Homo sapiens: one gene and its partners. The gene in region 3 interacts genetically with the main gene of each other region. Each region holds a gene or a part of one and is shown on either strand. Other genes may lie near its edges. The genes, in order: FMC1-LUC7L2, PEX26, ETAA1, ANKRD18B, SCAMP1, STK36 and PLCE1.

Region 1 (4,594 bases), on a different chromosome or scaffold from region 3:
AAAGATCCCTAACTCGGTGTCATATCTAATATAAAATGGTAACTCCCAAAATAACAGGATAATATTAAGTCTGTTTCTCAGGCAGCATCCATTAAACCAACTTGAATTTCCATCTATAATCCTACACTGTTTAGTATTAATCATTAGATACTATATTACTGAATCATAGTCAAGAATATTGTACAAAAAGGCAACTGATACAGATCAAAAGAACAAGAGGATAAAGTGAGGAATATTTTACCAATGTACCTTTAATTCTTCAAGCTTCTCTCTTATTTCAATAAATCCCAGGTGCAGTTTACCCCCAAAATGATCAGCCAGTCGTCTGTCATTATCATGAAGTCCTAAATAGGCAGAGCAGACTTCACAGACTCGAAGTTTCTGCTGCTGAAAACTGGAAGCTGGCATAGAATTCCGATAAACTTCCTAAACAAAAGTGAGAAAAACAATGACCATATAAATCTCACTAAAAGTCATACAATTAAATAAAATATACTATGCTTATACCAAAAGTGTTTTCTAAAAAATACACAAAAGTGGCTGGGCACGGTGGCTCACTGGGGCGAGACTCCAGCTCAAAAAAAAAAAAAAAAAAAAACCACAAAAGCATGGCTATTTTGTTATGAAAATTATAGGTTCCCTTTATCCCCATCCTCTATCCTTAGCGCCTCTCTCCACTGGAGTATAAGGAAATAATAAACATGAACAGAAATCAATGAAATAGAAAACAAGAAAAAAACAATAAAATCAGAAGACTGGTTCTTTGAAAAACAAAATAAAACTGACCAGCTAGATTAATTAAGAAAAGACACGAATTGCAAACATTCTACAGATATTAAAAGAGAACACTATGAACAACTTTATATCAATAAATACAACTTAGAGAGATTTTCTGAAAGACAAATTTACCAAAAGTATTTTAAAAAACAACAACAACAAAAAAACAGGCCAGGCCGGGTGGCTCACGCCTGTAATCCCAGCACTTTGGGAGGCTGAGGTGGACAGATCACCCCAGGTCAGGAGTTCAAGACCAGCCTGGCCAACATGGTGAAAGCCTATCTCTACTAAAAATACAAAAAATTAGCCGGGCATGGTGGTGCACACCTGTAGTCCCAGCTACTCAGCAGGCTGAGGCAAGAGAATCGCCTGAACCCAGGAAGCAGAGGTTTCAGTGAGCTGAGATCGCACCACTACACTCCAGCCTTGGAGAGAGAGTAAGACTCTGTCTTAAAAAAAAAAAAAAAAAAGGCCCTGGTGCAGTGGTTCATGCCTGTAATCCTAGCACTTTGGGAGGCCGAGGCAGGTGGATCACCTGAGGTTGGGTGTTCAAGACCAGCCTGACCAACATGGAGAAACCCTGTCTCTACTAAAAATATAAATATTAGCCAGGTGTGGTGGCATGGGCCTGTAATCCCAGCTACTTGGGAGGCTGAGGCAGGAGAATCGCTTGAACCCGGGAGGCAGAGGTTGCGGTGAGCTGAGATCATGCCATTGCACTCCTGCCTGAGCAAGAAGAGCAAAACTCCATCTCAAAAAAACAAAAAGAAGAAGGCTGGACTTGAACTGGACTCAAGCGATCCACCTTAGCCTGCAAAATAGCTGGGACCAAAGGCACGCACCACCACAACCAGCTTTTTCCGAGTTTTGTTTTGTTTTTGTCTTTTAGTTCAACTTCTCTTTAACAACTGTTCAATAATTTCCATTCAAATACATGTTCTTAGAGAAGTATAGATACTGAAGTTTCATCTACTACTTTTTATTTGTAGTCTTACCAAATTAAGCAGAATTCGTCTACTACTATTAAGAATTTACCTCTGCTTCTCTTTTCTTTGCCCGTGCTTTCTCTACTTCATCCATTACTTTCTGGGATTCCTCCACATTCCCTTCAGCTCCTAGTTGTTCCACCTTGGCTAACAATTTACCAATTTCTTCATTTAACTCATGAACACGTTCTGCCTAAAAAGAAATAAAAAAGAAGATCATGAATAAACAAGAGAATGAATTTTAAATTTCAAAGTATTTCAGAACTGCTGAGAAAAAACTTGTTATCTAAGGCAGTATGTGGTTAAAGAATGCTTTCTGAGCGTATCCCAAATGAACTACTGAGACATCAGGATGTTCTGAGCCTGCCTGCCTTACCTCAATGAAGTCAGGGCTACTACTGGGCCCAATATAACTTTCTATCCTCTGGCGAGGTGGTGTATTCCTAGTGTAAAATACGATTTCTTCCATGATCTGGCCCTTTGTACTTTTCTAAACCATCTCTTGCTACTCCCCCACCTCACAACATAATTTATAGTTTCCCCAAACTTACCCTGTTGTTTTCTACCTCTGTTACTTTGCATATACTCTTCTTTCTGGGATGGGATCCCTTACCTCTCGCCTGCCTACTGAATATTCACTCGTTCCAACAAGATACAACTCAAGGGCCATTTCTGTAAAACATTCCTGAACAGTCACCACATCCCAGCCCCACTTAAACACATCAGCAAAGATGGCCATACTCTCTCCTTTGTGTCACCTTTGTATCTTTTTTGACAGTTCCTTTCATAAATATCATACTACTTTAAGGACAGCTATCTGTATTTCCCATCTTTGTATCTCTAGTGCTCAGCAAATAGCCTAGGCTCAAATATGAGTTAAAGAAATGAATTGGTGGATCAAGTTCAGGAATCCATCAGATCTGACTTATTGCTAAACCAATTACTATCTGTGTAATTTTGGCCACATTACTTATACCTGAATTCATTTCCTCATCTAAGAAGTACCTATCCCACAAAGTTGTGAGAAATGAGAAAATAAGCCTCGTATGTACCCTGCATAGCACCTTGCTGATTTTCAGCATACTCGCCTGGCAACTCCACTCTATGAGTCCTTAGCTTTCCACCAGGATTAACTCTGGCCTTGGGAAAGAATACGTTCCTCTTCCTCATCACCATCATCATCCTAGCAACTTAGTTCATTCCTACTGTTGTAATGGCACATAAAACATACATATAATCATTATTTGGGCCACAAAGTCTTTGCTGTATGGCCAATTATAATATGTTAGCAAAGAAGGTTTTAATTTTTTGTTGTTATTGTTGTTTTTGAGATGGAGTCTTGCTCTGTCGCCCAGGCTGGAGTGCAGTGCCATGATTTCAGTTCACTACAACCTCTGCCTCCTGGGTTCAAGCAATTCTCCTGTCTCAGCCTCCCACGTAGCTGAGATTACAGGCGTGCACCACCATGCCTGGCTAATTTTGCAGTTTTTGTAGAAACAGGGTTTCACCATGGTGGCCAGGCTGGTCTCAAACTCCTGACCTTAAGTGGTCCACCCACCTTGGCCTCACAAAGTGCTGGGATTACAGGTGTGAGCCACCACGCCCGGCCGAAGGTTTTAGTTTGGTATGAGTTTCCAGTCCCAACAAACCAGTTTACTGGTTTAATTAATAGTCTTTACTTCTCAAATATCCTTCAACCCAAAATATTTCTTCCCTCAATGAGAGTCCAATTCTATTATCACTATCCTCCCTCTCTACCAAATGGTATTTTCCTTTAAATGTATCATTGAATGACTAAACTGTTGTCCAAAACTCTTCTTTCTTCCCTGTATCCATGTCCTTGACCATGTAATTGTGTACCATCGTACTCTGACTCTGAATTTGGCCATGAACTTGCTTTGGTTACTGAGATGGTAGCAAACATGACCAAAGGAGAGGCCTGTGTGATGGGGCTTGATGCTTCTGCACCTCTACCACCACTATGAGAACACGGCCAGGCTAGCCTGCTGGGCATGGCTCTGCATCCTCTAGTGGACTGCAAGGCATGTGAGTAAGCCCAGCTGAAACAAGAATAACTGCTCAGTCAAGTTCAGCCTAAATCACTGACTGCAGAGTCATGGGCTAAATAAATAGTGTTTTAAGTCACTGAGCTTTGAGGTGGTTTGTTATACAGCATTTGTGTAGTGATGGATAACCAATACAACCAATACAACTCAGGCTCTACCAAGCACTTACAGATCTCTTCCAACCATGAGATACTAGATCCTTTGTACTTCAGGATGCCCGTCTTTCCAGTCCCCATCTTCAGAGAATTTTCAGAAAAGGTTGACTAAAAGCAACCCTTTTCTCAAACGATGGAATCTATTTTCATTTGTATATACATATCTGAACACCATATTTTAATACTGTCATCTAAACTCCACCTGGGTAACTCTTTTTCTCCCATTCTGCATTTTCATAAAACACACTTGATCATACTGAATGGAATATAATTATGTTGTAATAAGTCATCAACAAATGCAATATAAAAGACCTTGTTTGGATTCTAATAAATCGACTCTATAAGAAAAATAAACATACACTGGATAACATTAAAAAATTACTGTTAACTTTATGTATGTATTACTGTGGTTATAACTTACAGGTGAAATATTGACATTTAACATTTGCTTTTAAAAGCAAATAAAAATACTGTGGTATATCTGTACAATGGAGAAATAAAAAGGAATGAACTGATACACACAACTTGAATGAATCTCAAGAAAGTTATATGGAATGAAAAAGGCCAAATCTCAAAAGCGTACACAGGATTTCATTTATGTAACACTCCA
Region 2 (4,594 bases), on a different chromosome or scaffold from region 3:
CGAGACCATCCTGGCTAACATGGTGAAACCCCGTCTCTACTAAAAATACAAAAATTAGCCAGGCGTGGTGGTGTGCGCCTGTAGTCCCAGCTACTTGGGAGCCTGAGGCACGAGAATCACTTGAATCTGGGAGGTGGAGGCTGCAGTGAGCCAAGATCGTGCCATTGCACTCCAGCTTGGGCAACAAGAGCAAAACTCCGTCTCAAAAAAAAAAAAAAAAGAGTTTAGTAAAAGGGTATTAGGTATTGGCTAAAGCCTTCATTCCTTAACTGCACATACTCTTGCAAATCTCATGAATATAAATTGTTTTCCTCGTGTTTATTACTTATTTTGACTATATATTATTTACTATATTGAATGCATCTTTGTAAAAGTTTTTTAAAACCTTTCAGAACCTTTCAGGCCAGGCGCAGTGGCTCATGCCAGTAATCCCAGCACTTTGGGAGGCCAAGGCAGCCAGATCACGAGGTCAGGAGATTGAGACCATCCTGGCTAACACGGTGAAACCCCGTCTCTACTAAAAATACAAAAATTAGCCAGGTGTGGTGGCGGGCACCTGTAGTCCCAGCTACTCAGGAGGCTGAGGCAGGAGAATGGCGTGAACCTGAGAGGTGCAGCTTGCAGTGAGCGGAGATCGCATCACTGCATTCCCGCTTGGGCGACAGAGCGAGACTCCGTCTCAAACAAAAAAAAAAAAAAAAAAAAAGAGAGAGAGATGGTGACTTTCTGTCCTTGAAGTATTCACAACTAGACTAGATCATCACTCAAGGAAAAGGGCGGAAAAGATTCAGCGACCAGGGAAAGGGTCTGCAAATTAGTTTCTGATATTCCTTTGGCTATCCCAGCAGATCTCAGCTGTGTCTGTATTGGGGCCAGCATTTAAAGGAGGAAGGACATCCCACCCAGACCAGTATGGTGGAAGCAAGAGACCTCATCAGAGGACTCCAATGGGAAAATGACTTTCAAAAGACAAGTCAAGGTCCCAAGACCCAGCAACACCTTCCCATGTGGAGATTCTCCTTCCACTGCCAACTTCAGAGGGTCTGGCCTTCACTTTGTGAAGCAAATCAACAGGCCTCCTATTCTGTGACTCAAGAGTTATTCATACAAAGAACTGCTTCTAAGCTCGCAGGAGTTTCACGACAGACCCCGAGGTACAGTGCAAGCCCGCAAGTCCACTTTACAGAGGTCGCAGAGGGATAATGTCCTACCTTCCAGGTTTGGCTTCTGGGCCTCCTCAGAGCCTGAGTGTTCCTGTTTCTGCTGCTGCCTCGCTGTGTGAATGGCCTGAAGTACATCCAGTCGCCGCTCCTCACCAAAGGCTGCAGAGCCCACCACTAGCTCCTCAGCCTCCGATAAGCAGCCCAGAGGCAGCAGCACCCGCTGCACGTGAAATTCTGCCAAGGCTCCATATTCTGGAAGGTTTTGATTGGCTGGGTCTTGGAGCCAGGCACCCACCACATCCAGCACAGCTCCAGGCTCTTGCATTTTGCTGTATAAAAGAATGCTGCAGTCCCCAAAAAACCCAATCCCAACAAAAGAAGAGTCAGTGCTCAATGATTGGTTCATTTCCCATGACCACTATGCTTCTCCTATCCAGCCCCTCCTCACTGTGTCCTCGAGCCCTTTCCGATGAAATGATGATGCTCATGGGAATTCCCCACGACACACCCATCACTAACAGCATAATCAATGGGAAAAGCTGAAAGCCTTTCCTCTAAGATCAGGAGCAAGACAAAGATGCCTACTTTGACCGTTTTTATTCAACATAGTACTGGAGGTCATAGCCAGAGCAATCGGGCAACAGAAAGAAATAAAAGGTATCCAAATTGGAAAGGAGGAAGTCAAGTTATCCCTGTTTGCAGACAGAACTAATAAACGGATTCAGTAAAGTTGTGGGATACAAAAATCAATGTACAAAAAACAGCGTTTCTATACGTGACAGTGAACCATTGGAAAAGAGATCAAGAAAACAATTCGATTTACAATAGCTACCAAAAAAATAAGATACCTAGGAATAAATTAAACCAAGCTGGCAAAAGATCTCTACACTGAAAACTATAAAACATTGATGAAAGAAGTTGAAGGGGACACACAAAAAATGGAAAGATATCCCGTGTTCATTCACAAATTGGAAGAATATTATTAAAATACCCAAAGCAATTTACAGATTTAATGCAATCCCTATCAAAACACCAATGGCATTCTTCAGAAACAGAAAAAACAATCCTGAAATTCGTATGGAACCACAAAAGACCCCAAATGGCTAAAGCAGTTGTGAGCAAAAAGAACAAAGCTGGAGGTATCATATTACCTGACTTCAAACCATACTACACAAAGCTATAACAGTAACCATAACAGCATGTTATGGCATAAAAACAGACAAAATAGAACAGAACAGAGAGCCCAGAAATAAATTCATGCACCTACAGCCAACTGATTTTCAACAAAGGTGCCAAGAACACACACAGGGGAAAAGACAGTCTCTTTAATAAATGGTGCTGGGAAAATCGGATATCCATATGCAGGAGACCAGACCCCTACCTTTCCCCACATACAAAAATTAACTCAAAATGGATTCAAGACTTAAATGTAAAATCCAAAACCATGAAACTACTAGAAGAAAGCACAGGAGAAATGCCTCACAACACTGGGCTGAGCAAGTGTTTTTTTCAGTAAGACCTTAAAAGCACTGGTAACAAAAGCAAAAATGGACAAATGAAATGACATCAAACTAAAAACTTCTGCACAGCAAAGGAAGCAATTAAGAGTGAAGAAACAACCTACAGAATGGGAGAAAATATTTGCAAACTATCCATCTGACAAAGCGTTAATATCCAGAATATATCAGGAACTTAACAGCAGAAAAAAAAAAAAAAAACCTGATTCAAAAGGGAAAAAGACCTCAACAGACATTTCTCAGAAGACGACGTACCATGGCCAACAGGTATATGAAAAAATGCTCAACACTACTAATCATCAGGGAAATGCCAATCAAAACCACAATGAGACACTACCTCGCTCCAGTTAGAACAGCTCTTATCAAAAAGACAAAAGAAAACGAGTGTTGGTGCGGGTGAGGATGTGGAGAAAGGCAGCACTTACACACTGTTGGTGGGACTGTAAATTAGTACAGCCATTATGGAAAACAGAATGCAGGTTCCTTTAAAAAATTCAAAATAGGAAAGACGGCACTTCCTTTTTGTAAGTGGTGGCAAGTGCTGAGAGAATGCCATGAAGGCCTGGGGCACACTGAGAGAGTATTTGCTGCCTGCCCACCCCCAAATGCCACATGCTGCCCCTCTACTGCCAGCAAATCTCTGCACCTAAGCAAGTTGTGCCAAGTCCCGCTTCTGGTACTGCCACCGGCCGACAGTCAAGCAGTTCCACAATTCCAAGATCAAGTTCCTGCTGCCCTACCAGGTCCTGTGTCTTCAGCACAAGCCACACTCCAACATCAAGAGTCCCAACACCTTCTTCTAGGTACAGGGAACTGTCACCGGGTGTCATCAAAATAAACTTAAGAATGGCCAGGTGAAAAAAATAAAAATAGAACTACCACATGATCTAGCAATCCATTATCTCCCCTGTTTAATGCAGCACTATTCACAACAGCCAAGATATGGAATCAACCTAAGTGTCCAACAACAGATGAATGGATAATGTGTGTGTGTGTGTGTGTGTGTGTGTGTGTGTGTATATGTGTACATATATGTATATTATGTGTATATATGTGTTTATATATGTGTATATATATACACACACGCATATATATATATATATATATATATAATGGAATACTATATAGCCATAAAAAAGAATGAAATCTTGTCATTCATGACAACACAGGTGGACCTGGGGGACATCATGTTAAGTGAAATAAGCCAGGCACAGAAAGATAAATACTACATGATTTCACTCATGTGAATCTTTAAAAAAAAAAAAAAGTTGATATCATAGAAGCAGACGGTAGAACGGTGGTTACCAGAGACTGGGAAAGGAAGGAAGAAAAGGAAGACGGGAAGAGGTTCGTCAATGGGTACAAAGTTACGGTGGGATAGGAGGAATAAGTTGTGGTGTTCTATTGCACGGTAGGGTGGTTATGGTTAACAGTAAGGTATTGTATATATAAAATAGCCGGAAGAGAGGCTTTTGAATGTTCCTGTCACAAACAAATGATAAATGCATGAGGTGATGGATATGCTAACTACCCTGATTTGATCATTATACAACATATACACAGCATATATTGAAATGTCTAATTTACCCCATAAATATGTACAAGTGTCAATTTTAAAAACTTTGTTATTTTTTGGCCAGGGGCGATGGCTCACATCTGTAATCCCAGCACTTTGGGATGCCGAGGCAGGTGGATCACGAGGTCAGGAGATTGAGACCATCCTGGCTAACACGGTAAAACCCTGTCTCTACTTAAAACACAAAAAAATTAGCCGGGCGTGGTGGCAGGCGCCTGTAGTCCCAGCTACTCGGGAGGCTGAGGCAGGAGAATGGTGTGAACCCGGGAGGTGGAGCTTGCAGTGAGCAGAGACTGTGCCACTGCACTCCAACCTGGGCGACAGGGCGAGACTCCGTC
Region 3 (3,722 bases):
ATTAGAATAGGAAATAACGTAGATTACCTCTTTTTTGATGATCCTCTGCAATAATAGCATTTAAAAATATAACTACTTTCCTCTGTATAATATCCGTACATAATTGCTAACTTTCCTGAATTTCCAAAACTTTTGTATTTAATGACTTTCAAATACATGTCCAAGGAAATGTTTCATTTACCATTGCAAACATTGATTTATTAAATAAAGTAGAAGTCCAGGCTTTATAAAAGTCAGCATTACATTTCTCACAGAGAAATCAAGAAAAAAAATTTCCTATCAATCACAGATAGTTATCAGCAGTCTTCGTGAAGTCTTCCAACTAATATTTCATTAAAGAAATGAAGTGGGAGCTGCATTTACAGATGAGGCTCGTGCTTTAGCCATTCTCCGAACCAGTGCTTCTTGTCTTTTTCTCTGAATTTCTTCAGGAGAACACTTTCTATTTTTCTCTTCTTCCTCTAAAAATTCAACAAAAGATGAGTTTTACTTTTATAGCCTATAAAGTCATTCAATATGTGCTTTAATTTTTGCTTTTTTTAATCACCCAGATTTGCCATATTAGTTGGCTATTAAATCAAACTAAACTACTGAATATAAAATTCTAAGTACATAATACAGATATAATGCTCCAGTTCAAAAGAAAATCAAGCACTGATGGATCTGTCTCTATTTGATACATTCTTTTCACAGTGTGATAAAATTCAGTTTGATAGAAAACTGACTACCCACCAAATAATTCTTGTGGACAATGACATCTAATTTATATGACCCACGAATAAATATATCTTTAAAAAGGATACATTGGGATTTAAAATGTTATGTAAACTTTAATTGGAAAATAGTCAAAATATAAGGAATTAAATTAGTTATCAATCTCAAACAGTGTATATTTACATAAGATGTTATATTAATATTCACATCTACTTTTCCCTATAGAGCTATAAAATTTTCATTTCATCCACTGAGGAAATATATTTTAGAGTGATAAAATGAAATCTGTCATGTCAAACTGGTTACCTGTGATTCACTGTCAGAAATTATATTTTTATTTGGAGGATGCATTTTGGAGAAACTTTAAAATAATCTCAATTAACTTAGTAAGTTGAGGCTTTGTATTAGAAATCACTTTCTCATTTAAATGATATTTTAAGTTTAAGACTATCACCCTAATACATATTTAAGTATATCATTTATTCTGACATTTAGAAAAAGATACACAATTTATGAGACATTTCTCTTGTTAACTAACAGAGGCATTTTCAAAATATATAATCTGCCTCCCTTTCCTTTCTTGGTATAATCAGAAATGGGAGGGGGTATTCAGGCTAAGAAATACATATTTTAAATAAGTTTCCCAGATGATTTTGATGGCTTTTATTTCCTAAGCTATTTACCTAACAGACTGTAGATATTTTTTCCTAAAGAGAGACACCAGAAGATACTTTCTAATTAGCTTGACTAATTATCTAATACTTTTAGTCTCAAAGCTGAGAAACACAACAAACTCAGACTACACATCCAAAGACTTTACACTGAATTTGACTGTGTGGAAAGAAAACAGGTTAATAATCTGTAACAGCAGAAAACATAACTTCCTAAAGTTGGTCTTACAATTTGCTTGGCAATATTATAGAAAATAATTTCAAATGATAATCAGGTCACACCATGAAAATTTGATTTAGGGACTCATCCATTTTTCCCATCAGTCTTTCCTTTAACTCAATCTATAATAAAAATACACAATGAAGTCTTAAAATATTGTAAAGTACTAAGCAAAAGCTGCTCTTCTTAATCTTGATCTTACAGTGCAAGGGTCAGTAATTTTTTTTTTTCCTGTAAAGAAAGAGTCAGAAAGCAAGAATGTTAACCTTTGAGTATCTTGTTGCAACTGCTCACCTGTACCACTGTAGCAAAAATAGTTATGGATAATGTATAAATAACTGATGAGCTGTATTCAAATAAAACCTGTTTATGGACAATGAAATCTGGATTTCATATAATTTTCAAATGTCATGAAATATTATTCTCCTTTTAATTTTTTTCCAACCATTTAAAATGTAAAAATCATTTTTAGTGTGCTGGCTATACATAAACAAGCTGCAGGCTGGATTTGGACAGATCATAGTTTGCCAACTCCTGCCTGAAATAAATGTGGGAGTTAAGTGAGTTTTGTTTCAGAGATACTTCCCTGGAGAGCAGCTTGCTACATACCAAAGTAAAAGGAAGTAGAAACAATAGAAAACATCAACAAAGTTAATAGTAATTAAGAGATTCAGTACTATCAATAAGTTTAAAGAAAATATTGATAAGGTAAGCTAAAACGCAGATTATCCATAAAAAATGCAGATAGATTGGTAGATAGGAGTTTTGGGAAAACTCAAATACTCCAGGAGGTTTAGTCTTTTATAGAATTATAACTATAGTTGACCCTTGAACAACATGGGCTTGAACTGGCAAGTCCACTCATTTGTAGGTTGTTTTCTGCATCTGACACCCCTGAGACAGCAAGACCAACTCCTACTCTTCTTCCTTCTCGGCCTACTAGACATGAAGATCATGAGGATGAAGACCTTTATGATGATCCACTTTCACTTAATGAATAGTAAATATTATTTTCTCTTCCTTATTTTCTTAATAACACTTTTCCAGCTTATTGTAAGAATACAGTATATAATACATATAAGAGCATACAAAATATGTATTAATTAATTATGTTATCGGAAAGGTTTCTGGTCAACAGCAGGCTATTAGCAGTTAAGTTTTTAGGGGATCAAAAGTTATACACAGACTTTCGACTGCAAATCAGATCAGCGCCTCTAACCCCCACACTGTTCAAGGGTCAACTCTATCTGTAAATAAAGTCATGCTAGGAACATGCTTGATTTAGTTACAATATGCTCACTTTAATACAAATTTAAATACTTAAAATTATTATAGATTGAGAACAATTTTTAATATTTCAAAATATCTAGTTTGGGCTATCATGTAAAGCAAGCTTGTCCAACCCGCAGCCCGCAAGCTACCCGCAGCCCAGGATGGCTTTGAATGCAGCCCAACACAAATTCATAAACTTTTTTACAACATTATGAGATTCTTTTGTGATTTTTTTTTTTTTTTTTTTTAGTTCATCAGCTGTTGTTAGTGTCAGTGTATCTTATGTGTGATCCAAGATAATTCTTCCAATGTGGCCCAGGGAAGCCAAAAGATTGGACACCCTTGGGTGTAGAGAATTATTTACTGTAAGTTTTGATAAGATAAATTGGTATAACTGCTTCGGATAGAAATTTGGTGGTATCCATCAAATTTTAAAACTTCCTCTTGTAGCAATTTTTTAGGAATTAACAGATACAATTATACAAGCATGCGGAAATTTATGCAGAAGGATATTTACTGGAGTATTGTTTGTAATTGCAAAAGACTGCAACCAACCCAAACTTCCATCACAGAGAAACAGTTAAATTATGATACATCCACCATATATATCACATAGTCATTAACAGGACTAAAATAAATTTATATGTACTAATAGGAAAAGACAGCTATAATATATTAAGGCAAAAGCAAGTTGCCAAATAGTGGGTATACAGATTTATTAATATTTAAATAGATCTATAGGTATATATATATGCATACACATATATACGTACATACACACACACATATCTTTTTATATTCATAGAAAATGCTACATCATACCAACTATTAATAGTGGTTTTCCG
Region 4 (4,594 bases), on a different chromosome or scaffold from region 3:
CCCTATGTTTACTTACAATAGTTTGATAACTTTGGGCCTTACATTTCAATCTTCAATTGATTCTGAGTTTATTTTGCTATATGGTGTTAGATAGGAAGCTAGTATCATTCTTCATATGGATAGTTTACCAGTGCCATTCATTTGAAGAGGGTGTCCTTTCCCCAATGTATGTTCTTGGCACCTTATTCCAAAATAAGTTGGCTGTAAATATGTGGATTTGTTTCTGGGTGTTGTATTCTATGGCCTTTACCCCAAGAATCATTACTTCTTAAAATGCAATTCAAATTAGCATGAAACATTTGCGGTTTAGGGAAAGGCTTATGGCATCAGAATCCTTATTTACAGGATTCATTATTTTGTGTTTTTTGAGATATGGTCTTTGTCTATCATCCAGGCAGAAGTGCAGTGATGTGGTCATAATTCACTGCAGCCCTGAACTCTGGGTACAAGCCATCCTTTTGCCTCAGTCTCCCAACTAGCTGGGTCTACAGGCCTGAGCCACCATGCCTGGCTAATTTTTTAAATTTGTTTTTTTTTGTAGAGATGGGGGTCTCACTATGTTGCTCTGGCTGATCTCAAATTCCTGGCCTCCAGTGATCTTTCTGCCACAGCCTCCTAAAGTGCTGGGATTACAAGCATGGGCCACCATGCCTAGCGTAGAGTATTATATTATTTTCAAAGTCTTATTCTGGGAGCCATTTATTGACTTTGGCCTAAATAACTCAATATGATATCTCTGAAAGGTTTTTTGACAAATTTTGGGGAATGATGATGAGGGAAGAGGGTTAGACACTTTTTACTAAGAGATAACTTAGTGCCATTTAAGGAGGAACAAAAATGAATTATCAGAAAAATAAAAGTAAAAGCAAGTGAAAAAGTTCTGTGGCAAAGATGATGTCAGTAAAGCATATTTTTGTGACTCATGGTAGCTTTAACTTTGTTCTTAAAATTCTGAGTAATTTAAGGGTTCACATTTGAAGAATCTACTACATTATAGATAACATTTTATTGCAAGTGGATGCATTTCAAAATTTGCTATTGGTTTTGTATTAGATTATTCTCAGCCTACTTCATTATCAAGCTCTATTATTTTATTAATGCAGTTTGATGATCTTATGGCCGAGAAGGAAGCTGTATCTTCAAAATGTGTCAATTTGGCCAAAGACAATGAAGTTCTTCATCAGGAGTTATTATCTATGGGAAAAGTACAAGAGAAATGTGAAAAACTTGAGAAGGATAAAAAGATGTTGGAAGAAAAAGTATTAAATCTTAAGACACATATGGAAAAAGATATGGTAGAACTTGGTAAAGTACAAGAATATAAATCGGAGCTGGATGAAAGGGCAATGCAGGCAATAGAAAAATTAGAAGAAATCCATTTACAGGTTAGTTTTTAAAATCAGGTAAGTTTATCTGTAATGGGCTTTCATTTATTTCACTGCAAACTGTATTTTGGATGTGTATATATTGTGTTTCCTCTGCCTCTCTTACGGCAATTTCCTTTGTAGAGCTCTAGAAAAAAGTGACGTTTTTTCCTTTTAAATATTTAAATTTCCATTATTATTATAACAAAATCAATCTTTCAAAGTAATGATTCTCACTATACAGTAAAAGGGGGAATTTGATGATTAAGACCAGTTGGCATAAGAGAAAACTGTGATTTAGAAATTATATGATACTTTTGAATTGGTCTTAAGCTACGTTGTTCATTGTTCACTTTTTAAAATTATAAATGGATTCTATTACTTTTTATAGGACCAGATTACATTAATACTAACATAATTATGATTCCAAATTTTTATAAATCAGACAATTCTGAATTCAGTTATTAGTTTTGTTGATATTGCTGATAAATATTTTAAGCTTCAGCCTCTTTTTAACATATTCAAAATTGCTCTTTGAATCACTGATTCAAAATGAAAGGCAACAAACATATGGTAATTAACTTATAATTGTTTTAAAAGTGTATTCTTTTCATTTGTTTTAGAAACAAGCAGAATATGAAAAACAATTAGAGCAGTTAAACAAGGATAATACGGCTTCACTAAAAAAGAAGGAACTCACACTTAAAGATGTGGAATGTAAATTCTCCAAAATGAAAACAGCTTATGAAGATGTTACAACTGAATTAGAAGAGTATAAGGAAGCCTTTGCAGTAGCATTGAAAGCTAACAGTTCCATGTCAGAAAAAATAACGAAGTAAGTCAAAACATATACTCATAGAAAATGAATTAAACTCATTAATTTGTTTTGAAAGCATAATTTTTAGTGAGATGGCTTCAGGAGATCAGTAGGAAGTGAATGCTAATTTGGTAATGTAATTTTGGAAAATAATGTTAGTAAATAATCCCTCCTTTAAAATGTTCATCAAGGATAGTTTCTGTCTCTCTTCTCTTTTTTTGCTTTTGTGTGGCTTTTTTCCCTGAAAAGTCTCATGTAGTTAACCTGACCAGTTAGTTTTTTTCACTAAGTATTTTTGAAGCTTTATGATAAATAAAGTGATCTTGTTATAAAATTACTTGTCAGAATTTTCCTAAATGGGAATATTAATGAGTTTAATTTATTTTTTGGTAGATCACAACCTGAACCCAAAGTGTCAAGTGATACTGCTACTCTGGGCACATCCTGGCACTCAGGCAGGGACTGTTTTTGAGTGTGATCTTTAGGTGTTATCACTAGAGGGTACCTCAAGAAAAACTATTTGTGTAACATTTTCAAGGTGTTACATAAAGGCATCCTTGTGAAAGAGGGAATAATTATCACAGGAATGAAAAGAAGGGTAATCCACAAGGTGGTTCAAAAATAACACCTTGTTCAGCCTGAAGGGCTGTGTGGAAGGCAGAAAGAACAAGCCCCACCTCCAGTGCCTTGGTCACAGTGTTGAGGGCTAATTGCCTTCAGAGATGCTGTAGTTCTTTTTGATCACCAACCAACCAGTCTAGTTCTCCCCCAGGAGTTGTTGCTCTGAGTTATTCCTCAGTGCCAAATACTTAAGTGTTCTTAGAGAATGGGTGAAATGTACAAGGGTGAAACCTGAAACTGGTTTACTAAACACAAGTATTTCTAGATTATTTTTGTTCATTTTAGTTTCCTTAATCTACATTATTTAAGGAGTACAACATGATGTTTTCATATAATTATTTATAGTGAAGTAGTTCTTATAGTCAAGCAAATTAACATAATCATTTTCCCACATAGTTACCCTTTAAATACAAGTATATCTAAAGGAATCTTTAGAATCTTATAAGTAGAGCTATTTTAGAAGGCAGCTAGGTTACCTGTTGAGCTGTACATCACTGATAGCCATTTCTCTTCCCTGTCTACTTTGAACTGCTTGTTCAGTAGAAATCACCTTAGAAACACATATACTTATTTAGAATGATTTTAAAATTACCGTTACTTACAAGAGGTATGCTCTCACACATCTTCGTGTGAAAACACTGTTTAATGGGTAATTTGGTTTACTCTCAGGGCAACTGTTTAAAAAATGCAAGTCATTAAGAATCATTCAAGGTAAAATGAAATACTAAGCATTTGTCTTTGCTCTCTTTACAGATCGGATAAGAAAATAGCTGTGATCAGCACCAAGCTCTTTATGGAGAAAGAGCGGATGGAATATTTTCTCAGCACTCTTCCTATGAGGCCAGACCCAGAGTTACCTTGTGTTGAAAATCTTAATAGTATAGAACTCAACAGAAAATATATTCCCAAAATGGCCATAAGAATTCCTACTTCAAACCCACAGACTTCAAATAACTGCAAGAACTCCTTGACTGAGGTTAGTTATATGACCATTTCTCTTTTGGGTTTCATTTCTCTAATATAATTCTTGTTTATAATTTGGTGAAATACTGAGTTGTTCTGTTGACTTATGCATGTTAAGTAAAGATTATAATTAGCTGTGTTAACACAGAAAGGAAATGGAAACTTTACATTTTTTAATTCCCTGGAGCTCTCATTTTCAAGAGACACCCATTTGCTAACTTTATTCAATAAATGTGGTTAAACTGACACATTTAAAATTTCTCTAAAAGCTGCATTTGTTAGGTTTTAAAAAATGCATGTTATTGCCTAATAACTGATGGTATACTTTGAAATGCTTTGTCTTACTCTACGTGACTGTAGTTTGTCTGTGGTTCATATCACTTTTTTTTTTTTTTTTTTTTTGAGATGGAGTCTCACTCTGTTGCCTAGGCTAGAGTGCAGTGGCATGATCTCAGCTAATTGCAACCTCCGCCTCCTGGGTTCAAGTGATTCTCTTGCCTCAGCCTCCCAAGTAGCTGGGACTACAGGTGCCTGCCACCACACCTGGCTAATTTTTGTATTTTTAGTAGAGATAGGATTTCACCATATTGGCCAGGCAGGTCTCGAACTGACCTTGTTATCCACCCACAACAGCCTCCCAAAGTGCTGGGATTACAGGGGTGAGCCTCTGTGCCCAGCCCATACTATTTTTAAAGTTTATTTGCACCAACTTAACTCTTTCCACCCATAATCACAAGCGAATGACAGGCAACCAAACACTTAACAACATATAGATATTTATTATTTAATAGAACCCAAAATAAGTGCATTTTATGAATTAAATAAAACA
Region 5 (4,594 bases), on a different chromosome or scaffold from region 3:
AAAAAAAGATACCAAGTGACTTCAGGAAATAAAAGGCACAAAGCTGGCTTTTAGTCATTTATTTTGGCTACATAAGTAACAGAAGGTTTAAAATCCAAATTCCCTAGTCTCAGGTCACTTTTTTGAAAAGTTTCATAAAGATATCCTCACTCCCACCAGCCAGCATCATCACAGATCGATAACATATTGGTAATGTGATGGAGGTCATTAGGCAGAGGTTAGATGTCCAAAAAAAACAAAACAAAACAAACTAACAAAAAACAGAAAAAGCCTTGTGAGCCATGCTTAGATAACGAAGAAAATAACAGCAATAACTCAGATCATGCAAGGAGTAACTATGTTCCTTTCATTCCTCTCCAACCCATCTCTACAGGAGAAGCTCTCCCCGTTCCTTGGCAACCAATCTCCCATATTTCAATGTATCCAAAGGTTCTTTTCTCCTTTCCCTTCTCCCATCATTTCTTCCCTTCACTCCTCCTCTCATCATTTCTTCTCTTTATGCCATTTCTAAGTAATAATTTACTTCTTCATTGTCTGATACATTTTCTCTCCAAATTCCCTAATGTTCTCCCATCTCCTGTTCTCTTCTGTTTTTCCCTCATCTGTTTACAGATCTGGGTTTCTAACTCTGTGTGTGTGTGTGTGTGTGTGTGTGTGTGTGTGTGCGCGCGCGCGTGTGTTACACATTCTGGTTAACTAAAGAGATTTTAGGTTGCAATGGCAAAACATACTGAACACTTAAATGTGGGCCTCTAATTTCCCTAATATATCCTTTAAACAACACACGCATATATCCTAGTAATGTTACCCCTTATTCACGAGAGTTGAAATGGTTATTCACAAGAATTTACTCAAATAAAAATGAGTTTAAAAAAACTATTAAATATATGAACCCATATAGGACTATCATTTCAATCAGTATTTCCCAATACTTCTTAAAGCAATAGTCCAACAAAGTACTCCACAGAAAAATAATGGTTGCATGGTCAAGTCATAAGGCACAAATCATACTAGGTACTTAAAGAGTGTAAGAAATCCTGAAATGAAGAAACTTGCTTAACCTTATTATCCAGCTGTTCCCAAATTTACTAAGCTTATGAGCTCTTTTTTTCTCCCCCAGCACCTATTAATATCCCACAGAACATGCGCTAAGGAAATGTTAACCCTAACCACTGATTAAAATATACTATGTAAAGCATTATACTTAACCTAGTAGCATAAATCGTTTTTAAAATGGTGCTGCCTTTGAAAAAACCTAAAATGGATTTATAAAGAAAATAATCCAAGTTGCTAGGTGCAAATGGCTCATTTTAAATATTGCATGTATATTTACCTTACTTAGGTTAATTTAAAAAAAAAAAAACCATAAGCACCAATTGGGATTTTGATTTGGGAGGTGGGGTGGGCAAACAGCAAAATTTTCCTTGAAGTATAACATATGGAAGAGAATATTTTATAAATATTAACTTCTAAGACTGTTCTTATTTTTCCATCAATTTTCATGTTTGGTCTTTTATCAAATGGGAGAAAAAAATGGAATTTTATGACTTACAAAATCCAATGAATACACAGGCATGCTATATTGAACTTTCCTGAAGGTATGTTACACAACAATACAAGAATTTTTTAATGAAAATGCATCAATTTTCCCTTTAATGTATACTACGAATTATTTACTTCACAGGTTTTAAAGAGTGTATTTTAAAGTACACACATTTTACCTGAAAGCTCCATAAAGTGGTCTGTACCAACAGACAAATGAACAAGGAGTAAAAAGCAAGAACCACAGGATACTCAATCCAAAATCAACCGCTCTTGCAGAATCAACACAAAACCAAGCCAAGCATCCGAAGATATTTAGAAACAGTGTTACTGCATGGACTGTGGAATCAGAAAACAAAATAGAAAAAGAAAGATTTACATTCAATTTATGAATTCATCCAACAAAAAATTGTAAATAAAAAAATACTTCCTAAGAGCAAATGTATTCTACTCCATGTTTCCATTTATATTTTTCAAAACACTGTTGTATCTTACATATTTGATTTGAAAACAGAGTATACACAGGAAAGCGAGTCTTAATACATGTACTGTTTGGCAAAAATTCTGTTGGCCCTCTCCTCCTCACAGGCAATGATGTAGCTAAACCAGAGGCGCACTACCTTAAGGGCTTCTTCCCGAAAAGGAAACGTGATGTCTCTTGATCTGAAGCCCAAGAAGAAAAGCAGTGTCTGCCAGGAAAAGACCCAGGACTTAGGAGGAAAAACCATATCTTTACAGAATGGGGCTGCAGACTAAACACTGGACTAAAAATACTAATACAGTAGCAATTTCTAGTGACTATATAGTCAATGTATAAGGATTGTTCATTCAACTTCATAGAGCTGTCCATTTGTAAAATCCTGAAAAAAACTTGCGTTTTGGTAGAGGATTAAATTTATTAAGTCCCCTCCTCACTCCCCCACACAACATGATACATTTTAGCTACTGTGGCAGGCTTTTCTTTTGGTTAACACAAATAGATGTTGACAAATTCATCATATGCTGTTAATAATTGCTTTCCCTGACAGACCAAAAACAAAAAATCTGAGTAACATCTAACTATACCATGATCCTAAAGAACTACTTTGACCCATTGTAATTAATAACTGTTTCAAAGGATTTTTTAAAAATTTATTCACAGGCTGAATTTATTATAGTAAGTACATTCTTATATAAGCTAAAATGATGTTTAATGTAAATTATCAAATCAATAAAAATATGCCAACAAATTACTTGAATTAAAATTAACAACTGGGAAAACCTATTGGATCTAGTTTTTTAAATCTCAAACTTTAAGATTTCTTTACAAATCAAATAAGTTAATAATTAATGAAACAGGATACACACACACATTCTGGGATGCCTAAATTTGCTCTTACCTAACCCACCAGATAAGTAAACAAGCTCTAGAGTTTTGTTTTTTGTTTTTTTTTAAAAAGAGCTCCAGATGAAGTCACTTAGGTTGTAGTCATCTAATATTAAGCCAATCACTCAACCTCTGTAAGCTTCAATTTTTCAGCCATAGAAATGCAGGAGCTTTTCCCACTTTAAAATCCCATTCAATTCTATCACAAAAGAGACACTCTCACTCATTACTCTAGTCCCATTAGGATTTTTAACTCTCAGGAATGCTTGCTCATAATAAATTTACTCAAAACCCTTGGCCTCAAAATAAGGGTGGTTGTGTTAAGATCTTAAAAACAGAATTGAAGATTGTGAAATAGAAAATTATTACTCTGCAGCATTAAATAGCATCCAGCTGCCTTAAAAAGTTTTAGACCTTAAGAACATTCTAACTTAAATTTCAATTTTCAAATTAGGTTATTTCCTAATCCACTGAAAGAAAGATAAAATATATGTATAATTACACTTTAAAGTTCATGAAAATTATTCCAAGTATAGATGAAAATACAAAAATTAGCCAGGCGTGATGGCATGTGCCTGTAGTCCCAGCTACTCAGGAGGCTGAGGCACGAGAATCACTTGAACCCGGGAAGCGGAGGTTGCAGTGAACCAAGATCGTGCCATTGCACTCCAGCCTAGGCAACAAAGCAAGACTCTGTCTCAAAATAAAATAAAATGCTAGGACAATTTCTGCCCATTTAAAAAAATAAACATATATAAAATATAAATGCATATATTATATTGATTAAATAAGAGTTGGTTAGCATGTACATATATGGAATCAGACATTTAATATTAAAAATATATACTACTGACACTGAGGATTCAGCAAAAGATATTAGATCAAGAATATCTCGAAAAATACTAATGAAGAGTTAAAAATAGACTATCCATTAGGAAACACTTCTCACATTCCAAAACAACTTGACATACATGAAGAATGCTCCTAAAAGATTTTAAGGAAAATTATCTCATCCATTAAGGGAAGGGTGGTAGTCTCATTAATCATAAAGTAAAAACAAGTAAATTTCCTCCATCAAGAATGTACCCTACAAATTATCCATTAACCCAGATGTTGTGCATGTGAGAACCCTCAATAGCTACCTCCCCTTCTGACAGGGTATCAAAATGAGGCTGAGACTACTGTTTGGAATAAAAATGAAACAGAGAGTAAGTGGGAGGTCTGTGCACACAGAGTAAAACTGTTAACGGCTTGACATTTTGTTTCAGTATTCCATGAGTTATTATACTCAAAGTGATGTAAGCATCAGAGCCCCAAACGTATATTCTAATGTTCCGTTCAACAAAATGTCCTGTATTAATTAAGCACTTTCAATAATAAAAGTATCGCAATTGAAAACAAAAAGTAAACTGTACTCAAAGCTATAAAAAGAACACTTAGTTTATGTAATAATTTTATGCCCTTTTAAAAATAGCTAAAACGCCTACATTTAACAGAATTCTTTTAAATGGCCTTCCTCTGCATAAAATTAGTATGCACTATTTTTTCCAAGCAAATCATGTCTAGATAACATCTTTCAAGGAAAAAGAATCTTATAAAATTTTACCCACATGACAGAGAAGTTGTCTTTTCCTCAAAAGAATGCCAGTTCTCAACATACAAGTTTTTCTCAGCCAAGGACTTACA
Region 6 (4,594 bases), about 150 Mb from region 3:
CAAGGTCTACAAAGCCTACAATATCTGGCCCCCACCATTACCTTCCTGTCTCATTTCCTACTATTCTCCACCTTCTTTACTCACTTAATCCATACTGGTTCCTCATAGCTCCTCAAGCATGCCAGGCATGCTTTCATCTCAGGGCCTTGGCTTTTCCCCAAAATAGGTGCACAACTCACTCCCTCGCCTCCTTCGAGTCTTTTCTCAAGTGTCACCTTCTAGTGAGGCCTACCCTGACCATCCGACTCAGCACTCCTCATCTCCTTTCCCTGGTTTCTTTTTCTCCATAGCTTTTACCACCTTCCTACATACTATTCTTTTAATAATTTCACTATCTCCCCGACCAGAATGGAAACTCTATGATGGGCACTGTTTTATCTCCTGTACCTAGAATAGTATCTGGCATACAGAAAGGACTCAAAAAATATACATTGAACTGAATTGAGATAATCTGGATAGAAGAAAATTATGGTGCTCCCTAGAAAAATATTATTTTTGCTAAAGTATAAACACTGTGGACAATGAAGATGAGGGTTAAACAAAATTTCTTATAAAAATAAGGGCACTTTACTTGTCTTTCATTTCTAAAACAACTGGAATTTAAGGAAGGACAGAAAGGAGTCTCCTCATTTTATGGATGGAGAAATCAAGGCCCTGGAAGCTTGTTCTAAGCCATCCAATGAGTTAAGGTTTTCCAATGCTTCCAGTTAGATTATAATTCTAACAGGTCTGACTAAAAGCCCTTTCTGGTAAATTGTACAATCTTTAAAATAGCTATCCTTCTACAGCAGCTTGGAGTCCCTACACATTAGAACTCCACTAAATATTAAAATTAGTCACTAAGTCTGAGCAACCTAATTGACCGCTCTGTTGAATCTTACCCTTTCCTATTTCAGCTCCACCGGCCTTGACTTGAAAGTAGGTAACCAAATATAGTTCATCTAGGAAGGGGGAAATTGGTAAAGGCAAGAAATGATATAAATAAGCTGCCAGACCAGGATCTTGTGTGAACACGATACCAGCACCTCCAACACCACATAGAAGCTGAAAGAGGGGTTGAGCCTCTCAACCCTTGTCCTGGGAGCTTCAAGTATGGTGAGGCACAACTTTTATTAAAAGAGTTTACAAACAGAACTATTAAACACACACACACATACACACACACATATACACACACACCCCAAAAAAAGATACACTCTCCACGCCCACCCACAGATAGGAATGTTGGCTAAGGGATAATCCCTCAATAACAGGGACTGATGGCATTGATCCCCACAGCCTAGAGCTGAGACAGGCTCTGTCTTCATCACTGTCCTGGGGCCAGCACGTCTAAGGCAAAAACCTGCTGGGAAGATTAAAGGAGCTCCAGAAAGGAAGAGATCTTTCAGGTTGAGGTTTTTCCCTAAGGTCCGTGAGGCAGGTCCCTAGAGTTAAAGGCACATTATTGGAGAAAAGGCCCCTGGATGTAGAGAAGAAAGGACTCTTCTCTGGCACCAACAGCAATAAAATTTACTGGTTGAAAACATCCTGCATCTGGGAGAAGGAAGAAGCTTTATATATAAATCTCTTCTAGTTTCTTGTTCTCAGTTGAGTTGGCAGCTTATCTCTTTTCTAGTCTCTTTAGCTCTCAGTTGAGTTGGCGGCTTGTGTAGTAGAATAAGAAAGAGCTGGCAACCAAAGTTGGAGGCTGGACCGCAGGAATCTGGAATCACATGCTATGGGCTGGCCTCAGGAGGTGAATGAGTTTCCTGCAGTGTTTGGCAGAGGCAGGCCTAGGACTGCTGTGTGGCAGTGACTGATTCCCCAGAGAGAGCAAGGATAGTTTCTCACTGGCACCCAGGGACACCAGTACCTGTAGGATAGAGAACAGATGATAGAACAGAACATGAGGCTCAGAAATGGTGGTGTCTGGGGCAGGTGCGGAGGACTCTCATTTACCCAGGAATTCCCACTCGAGAAGAGGAAGAAAAAGGAAATGGGCTCTTGGGGACTTGGAATAGACTGAATGGCAGAAGAGAAACCTTGGAGATAGGAATCATCAGGACCAGAAGTCTACTTCCATTCTCTTTGGTTATAGACCATGAAACCAAGGCACTAAGGGACACATATACTTGTCCCCAGGAAGACTTGATGAATGCAGCAGTAACTCACAGTAAGCCAAAAGGTCTAATTCCTAGCCTTCAATGCAGACCAGTGAGTTCTAACCTCATTACCACCAAGAATCCCATTAATTATTTTCCCCATGGATTGCACAAGATTCCTATAGGATCTTCACCATCGGCCAGGCAAGGTGGCTCATGCCTGTAATCCCGTACTTTGGGAGGCCAAGGCGGGCGGGTCACGAGGTCAGGACATCGAGACCATCCTGGCTATCACGGTGAAACCCCGTCTCTACTAAAAAAAAAAAAAATACAAAAAATTAGCTGGGTGTGGCGGCAGGTGCCTGTAGTCCCAGCTACTCGGGAGGCTGAGGCAGAATGGCGTGAACCCGGGAGGCAGAGCTTGCAGTGAGCCAAGATCGCGCCACTGCACTCCAGCCTGGGGGCGACAAAGTGAGACTCCGTCTCAAAAAAAAAAAAAAGATCTTCACCATCCTCTCAAATTTCTGCTCTGCATGAACTTCCCAATGCTACCACTTTGAGATGTCATAATTTATATTACCATATGTAGATATCTGTGATTTCCAATGGGCTTTTTTTTTTTTTTGAGACAGAGTCTCGCTATGTCACCCAGGCTGGAATGCAGAGGCATGATCTCCGCTCACTGCAACCTCCTCCTCCCAGGTTCAAGGGATTCTCTTGCCTTAGCCTCCCGAGAAGCTGGGATTACAGGCGCCTGCCACCACACCCAGCTAATTTTTGTATTTTTAGTAGAGACAGGGTTTCACTATGTTGGCCAGGCTGGTCTCAAACTCCTGACCTCAAGTGATCCGCCCACCTCAGTCTCCCAAAGTGCTGGGATTACAGGCAAGAGCCACAGAGCCTGGCCTACTGGACTCTTTATATACTGAAAATCGCGGTCAGGCAGGGTGGCTCACACCTGTATTCCCAACACTTTGGGAGGCTGAGGCGGGTGGATCACTTGAGGTCAGGAGTTCAAGACCAGCCTGGCCAACATGGTGAAACCTTGTCTCCACTAAAAATGCAAAATTAGCCAGGTAAGGTGGTGTGTGCCTGTAATCCCAGCTACTTGGGAGGCTGAGACAGGAGAATCACTTGAACCTGGGAGGCAGAGGTTGCAGTGAGCCAACATTGTGCCATTGTACTCCAGCCTGGGCAACAGAGCGAGACTCCATCTTAAAAATAAATAAGTAAATAAATAAATAAATAAATAATAAAAATACAAAGATTAGCCGGGCATGGTGACAGGCACCTATAGTCCCGGCTACTCAGGAGGCTGAGGCACAAGAATTGGCTGAACCTGGAGGCAGAGGTTACAGTGAGCTGAGATTGCGCCACTGTATTCTGGCCTGGGCAACGAGTGATATTCAGTCTCAAAAAAAAAAAGAGTGGCTCACGCCTATAATCCCAGCACTCTGGGAGGCCAAGGCAGGTGGATCACCTGAGGTTGGGAGTTCGAGACCAGCCTGACCAACATGGAGAAACCTGTCTCTACTAAAAATACAAAATTAGCCAGGCGTGGTGGCACATGCCTATAATGCAGCTACTCGGGAGGCTAAGGCAGGAGAACTGCTTGAACCCGGGAGGCAGAAGTTGTGGTGAGCCGAGATCATGCCATGCACTCCGGCCTGGGCAGTACGAGTGAAACTCTGTCTCAGAAAAAAAAAAAAGGAAAAAGAAAGTTGCGCAGAAGAGGAAGGATAAAGTAGTGGTTAAGAGTACGGGCTCTGGACTCAGACTTCTGAGTTCAAAAGCCCAATCCTACATACTGTCCTTGTAATTTGGACAAGTTATTAAATTATTTGTGCCTCAGTTTCCTCATCTGCAAAATTAGGATAATAATAGTTTAAACCAGATAATAAAGGTAAAATGCTTAGCATCGTGCTTTTCTCATGGTAAGTCTAAAAAAAAAATAGTCAGCACCTTCATGGCACACAGAGTAAAACTACTCTATCTCAGCATCTCTTAGTCTTCCCTCATCTCCCTCCTGCACAGCCTCTAGAAGAGATCAACTGTGGTCCTTGAGATCTCAGACATTTCCCAGCCCATTGGAGCCCTCTTCTAGCTCCCTTCCCTCCTCCAAGGCAGGAGATGTAACTAGAAAACTCACTCCAAGACACTGTCCCTGGGAGAAACACGGCATAAGTTTCTCCATGTCCCGATTCCAATTCCTTACAGATGATCTCAGAGAAATGTTGTCAACTATAGGGGCCCTGATCATCATGGTTCATAAGTGCTGTAGGGTATACCTGATGGATGCCAGGCTCCTGTTGCAGGCTCCGGAGGGCAATGAGGGCAGCCTCCTTCACATTTGGCTGGGGGTCTCCACATGCCATTTCTAGGAGCCGCTGGGGTACTTCGCACTGTAACAGCTCCTCTCCCAAACCTTCAGGTCCCAAGTTGCCCAGAGCTGATGCAACATTGCGCCGGATACCAGCCTGAGGATCTCCAAGCAGCTGGGTCATACTGGGCAC
Region 7 (4,594 bases), on a different chromosome or scaffold from region 3:
GCCAGGTGTGGTGGCTTACGCCTGTAATCCCAGCACTTTGGGAGGCTGAGGGTGGACCACTTGAGTCCAGTAGATCAAGACCAGCCTGGCCAACATGGTGAAACCCCCTCTCTACTAAAAATACAAAAATCAGTCAGGCATGGTGGCATATGCCTGTAGTCCCAGCTACTTGAGAGGCTGAGGCAGGAGAATTGCTTGAACCCGGGAGGCGGAGCTTGCAGTGAGCTGCGATCGTGCCACTGCACTCCAGCCTAGGCGACAGAGCAAAAAAAAAATTTTGAGTAACTTTTTATAACCGTATTCTAATATTCTTTATAACTGTATTCTTATCTTTAGCAAGGTATCTGACCATAAGCATAAGAAAACAACTACTAGATGAGTTATTGTATTTTTATTCTCAACAACAATAATCTTTATTATGTATTAGTTTTCCTTCTTGTGTCAGGAACCGTGTTAAATACTTTATGTACATTTTTTGTACTAAATCCAATCTACTTGCAAGGTAAGTTTTATTATTCTTTTTCTACCTATGAGGAAACCGAGGTTCAGAAAGGGAAAGTAATTTGTTCAAGGTAACCCCTCTCAGAGGAGGCCAAGCCAAGGTGAGATTTTGGTCTAACTTTATACCTGGGATTTTCATTGTTAGGCTTGTTTGCCTTCAATTAAATCATAAACACAAGTCATGATCTGAATATACTGGGACTTTAGTCCTTTTTAGGTTTTTTTAACCTTTTTAGGTTAAAAAAGGACTTAATAGGCTGGCTTGAGAAGTACCTCTGTTAAACTGTTAAAAATAAAATACAATTAGTTCAAAGATACTCCTTGGAAAGAAAGTAGGCAGACTGCTTGAGCCCAGAAGTTTGAGACCAGGCTGGGCAACATGGTGAGATCCCATCTCTACAAAAAATACAAACATTAGCTGAGTATGGTGGCATGCCTATAGTCCCAGCTACTTAAGAGGCTGAGGTGGGAGGATTGCTGGAGCCTGGGAGGTAGAGTCTGCAGTGAGCTGTGATGGCATCGTTGAACTCCAGCCTGGGCAATAGAGCAAGACCCTGTCTCAAAAAATAAAAATAAATGACATTTAAAAAGGACACTCCTTGGGAAATATGGTCACGGTGGCCAGAAAAGCATAACAGTTCTCCTGGACTCAACCTTAGATTTCTACTCTCTCTGTGCATGTGTGTAGGTATACACAGAAAAGGCTAGTTTGCATAGAAAATTTAGCACGTTCCCTCCGCTGAGTCAGGAACCTGGATTATTTGAGCCAAGAGGATCAGAGAACAGTGAAGGCAAGCGATTGCTTCTTTCTTACATGGCCACCTTGGCAGGAACCTGCCCAAGAGTCTCATTCTTTTCAAAGCATAGGAAGTTGTTAGTAAGATCAAGGTTTCTGCTATTTGGTCCACAGACATCACCAGCAAAGTGGTGAGTAAAATTGTGAAGGAGCTGGTACATAGGCTGGTCCACGCGTCTCTGGGAAGGAAGGCTCTCATGCTCAGGAGACACTTGGGCCACCTACTGCCTCTTGATGAGGCAACGACAGTATCATGGGGCTTGTTGATACTCCTCAGTTTAGACTATGGTCCCTGAACAAGATTACCATTCTTGCTTTCAAACAGCAGGTTCTACATCCTTGCCCCACACGTGGATATTCTTTAAAAAAAAAGTCTACCACAAATATTGAATTTTAGTGTCTCACAAATCTGACGGTGAGAAAATCCATTTCAGAGCCCCATACCAGAAATAACCAAAAGTCCAGCAACAATAAAATGTATGCATAGATTTTGGTGTATTCATGCAATGTAATTCTGTACAGCAATGAAAATGAATAAGCAATAGCTAACTACATGGAATAACACAAATTTTAAGCAAGACACACAAGAATGCATATGGTATGTATTTGTGATACATAAATACATACATTTCTGTAAATGTCAATTTCAAAACCAGGCAAAAACTATACTGTACTATTTAGGAAGGCATATTAGTAGAAAAACTACAAAGAAAAACAAGATGTTATTGTAAAACTTATAATAGTAGTTTTCTCTAGGGGGAGGCTGGTAATAATTCAGAAGGGAAATAAGAAGTTTAGGGGTGCTGGCAATGTTCTAACCCTGGATGCTAGTTATGCTCAGTCACCTGATAATTATTCAAATACACTGTTTCGATAAACTTTTAATTTTAGGATAGTTTTAGATTTATAGAAAATTCCAAAGACAGTGTACCTCACACAAAAATTTCCCTATTAACATCTTACATTAGTCTGGTATATGTGTCATAATTCATGAACAAATCCTAACACATTATCACTAATTAAGGTCCACACTTTATTCAGATTTTCTTAGTTTTTAATGTCCCTTTTCTCTTCCAGGATCTCCCATTACATTTACTTGTCAGGTCTCTTTAGGCTCCTCTTGACTATGAGGGTCTCTCCTTGTTTTAGGTGCTCTTGACAGTTTGGAGGAGTACTGCTCAGGTGTTTTCTTGAAGGCCCCTCAGTTAGGACTTGGCTGATATTTTTTCCATAACTAGATGCAGGTTATGGGTTTGGGGAGGGAAGACCATAGAGGTAAAGTATCATTCTTATCACATCATATTGAGGGCACCTACTACCAACATGACTTCTCTCTGGTGATACTGATCACCTGGCTGAGGACCTGTGTGTCATGTGCCACTGTACAGTTACTACTATTATTATTTTTAACTCATTTCCATACTCTACTCTTTGGGAAAAAGTCACCATGCCCAACTCACTCTTAAGGAGTGGGGAGTTATGTTGCACTTCCTTGAGGGTGAAGAATCTGCCTAAGTTATTGGGAATTCTTTTGCACAAAAGATGGATCTCTTCTCCCCCATTTGTTTATTTATCATTTACACATATCATTTACTTGTATCAGTATGAGCTCATGAATATTAATTTAATACTTTGGGTGATTTATAATGTGATACTACTTTATTTATTTTGTTGCTGTGGCTATTGGGAGCTCTTCCAGTTGGTTCTTGTATTCCTTTCACAGCTCCCATCACTGTGTGTTTCTTTTGAGAACTTCCTTACTACAACATGCTCCAGGCTCACCTTGTGTATTTTCTGCCCCAGTCCTCGAATCAGCCTCTCTAGGAGAAACCTTGCCTCCCTTTACTGAAGAATGGTATTAGAAACCAAGATCTGGGCCATGCGCAGTGGCTCACATCTGTAATCCCAGCACTATGGGAGACCAAGACAGGTGAATCTCTTGAGGCCAGGAGTTCAAGACCAGCCTGGCGAACATGGTAAAACCCCGTCTCTACTAAAAATACAAAAATTAGCTGGGCGTGGTGGCAGGCACCTGTAGTCCCAGCTACCTGGGACGCTGAGTCACAAGAATTGCTTGAACTTGGGAGGCTGAGCTTGTAGTGAGCAGTGAGCTGGCATTGTGCCACTGCATTCCAGCCTGGGCAACAGAACAAGACTCTGTCTCAAAAAAATAAAAATAAAAAATAAAACAACAAAAACAAAAAAAACACAAGATCTGGGGTTACATGATATTTTATGCTCTTTTCCTAATGTTACTTCATAATAAAAAGTGAAATAAGAAAAAAATCATTTGTGTCTTATTTAGCTCCATCCCTCTGAAATTGCTCTCGGTAACACTGGAAAACCAATACTTATGTCCTCTTACACAATGGCTTCATACATGCCTGCTGCAGTCATCCTGGGTTTAATGTTAAACATCACCACCTGTTTCCTGTGTGACCTCATCAAAACACTCAACCTCTCTGAGCCTCACTATTAGATGGCAAAAAGACAATGCTCATCTCATAGAATAATGGTGAAGATCAAATAAGATAACAGTTGGAAAGCACTTAGCACAGCGCCTGTCTTGGTAAAGTACACTCATTAAATATAGGAAGACCAATTCTTTGCACTTTTCCTTTCTCACTTCCTCTTCTCTAGGCTACCTCAGCCCAGCCCAGCTGTTCCTCTAGAGGGGCTTTTTTTTTTTTTTTTTTCTGGAGATGGAGTCTTGCTCTGTTGCCCAGGCTGGAGTGCAGTGGCACAATCTCAGCTCACTGCAACCTCCGCCTCCCAGGTTCAGGCAATTCTGCCTCAGCCTCCTGAGTAGTTGGGATTACAGGTGCCCGCCACCACACCCGGCTAATTTTTGTATTTTTAGTAGAGACAGGGTTTCACCATCTTGGCCAGGCTGGTCTTGAACTCCTGACCTTGTGATCCACCTGCCTCGGCCTCCCAAAGTGCTGGGATTACAGGGGGGAGCCACCATGCCCGGCCAAGGGGCTTTCTTTTGGGACCATTTCCACATTCTCCATGTCCTACTTCTTGTTGTTTTAAGAGCAAAAAGGATTCAATTGGTGAGTGTTAGTACCCATTAAAATACAACATGTAAATTTGTACATAGAACTTCTGATTTTAATTTAGCAAGATAAATGGTGTTTTCCATATTCCATTTAAGTTCTGAGTTAAGTCAAGCATGTTCCAGTGAAATACCACAAGCATTATAAAAAAATAGTGTCTGGAAAGAAAAATTATAAGGCTTTTCTGGAGCCTGTTTCTGCTGCTCAGAGATGATGTAAGCTGGGAGAGAGGGGACGC

The links.
Region 1: changes in ETAA1 (region 3) and FMC1-LUC7L2 are lethal when combined (synthetic lethality), as found in Homo sapiens cells (one large-scale study listed by BioGRID).
Region 2: changes in ETAA1 (region 3) and PEX26 are lethal when combined (synthetic lethality), as found in Homo sapiens cells (one large-scale study listed by BioGRID).
Region 4: changes in ETAA1 (region 3) and ANKRD18B are lethal when combined (synthetic lethality), as found in Homo sapiens cells (one large-scale study listed by BioGRID).
Region 5: changes in ETAA1 (region 3) and SCAMP1 are lethal when combined (synthetic lethality), as found in Homo sapiens cells (one large-scale study listed by BioGRID).
Region 6: changes in ETAA1 (region 3) and STK36 are lethal when combined (synthetic lethality), as found in Homo sapiens cells (one large-scale study listed by BioGRID).
Region 7: changes in ETAA1 (region 3) and PLCE1 are lethal when combined (synthetic lethality), as found in Homo sapiens cells (one large-scale study listed by BioGRID).

What each region holds. Positions count from the first base shown.
Region 1 is NC_000007.14:139,403,006-139,407,599, reverse strand, and holds part of FMC1-LUC7L2 (FMC1-LUC7L2 readthrough protein), read right to left. Parts: intron 1,957-4,594; coding exon 1,813-1,956; intron 427-1,812; coding exon 250-426; intron 1-249. Other genes in the region: LUC7L2 (putative RNA-binding protein Luc7-like 2), read right to left, coding at 250-426, 1,813-1,956. UniProt on the Homo sapiens protein: Plays a role in the assembly/stability of the mitochondrial membrane ATP synthase (F(1)F(0) ATP synthase or Complex V).
Region 2 is NC_000022.11:18,080,350-18,084,943, reverse strand, and holds part of PEX26 (peroxisome assembly protein 26), read right to left. Parts: intron 1,508-4,594; coding exon 1,212-1,507; intron 1-1,211. UniProt on the Homo sapiens protein: Peroxisomal docking factor that anchors PEX1 and PEX6 to peroxisome membranes. PEX26 is therefore required for the formation of the PEX1-PEX6 AAA ATPase complex, a complex that mediates the extraction of the PEX5 receptor from peroxisomal membrane.
Region 3 is NC_000002.12:67,406,650-67,410,371, reverse strand, and holds part of ETAA1 (ewing's tumor-associated antigen 1), read right to left. Parts: intron 462-3,722; coding exon 334-461; 3' UTR 1-333. UniProt on the Homo sapiens protein: Replication stress response protein that accumulates at DNA damage sites and promotes replication fork progression and integrity.
Region 4 is NC_000009.12:33,565,116-33,569,709, forward strand, and holds part of ANKRD18B (ankyrin repeat domain-containing protein 18B), read left to right. Parts: intron 1-1,103; coding exon 1,104-1,385; intron 1,386-1,987; coding exon 1,988-2,199; intron 2,200-3,555; coding exon 3,556-3,778; intron 3,779-4,594.
Region 5 is NC_000005.10:78,419,088-78,423,681, reverse strand, and holds part of SCAMP1 (secretory carrier-associated membrane protein 1), read right to left. Parts: intron 1,882-4,594; coding exon 1,722-1,881; intron 1-1,721. UniProt on the Homo sapiens protein: Functions in post-Golgi recycling pathways. Acts as a recycling carrier to the cell surface.
Region 6 is NC_000002.12:218,699,124-218,703,717, reverse strand, and holds the end of STK36 (serine/threonine-protein kinase 36), read right to left. Parts: coding exon 4,370-4,594; intron 1,853-4,369; coding exon 1,709-1,852; 3' UTR 1,003-1,708; downstream 1-1,002.
Region 7 is NC_000010.11:94,241,189-94,245,782, reverse strand, and holds part of PLCE1 (1-phosphatidylinositol 4,5-bisphosphate phosphodiesterase epsilon-1), read right to left. Parts: intron 1-4,594. UniProt on the Homo sapiens protein: The production of the second messenger molecules diacylglycerol (DAG) and inositol 1,4,5-trisphosphate (IP3) is mediated by activated phosphatidylinositol-specific phospholipase C enzymes.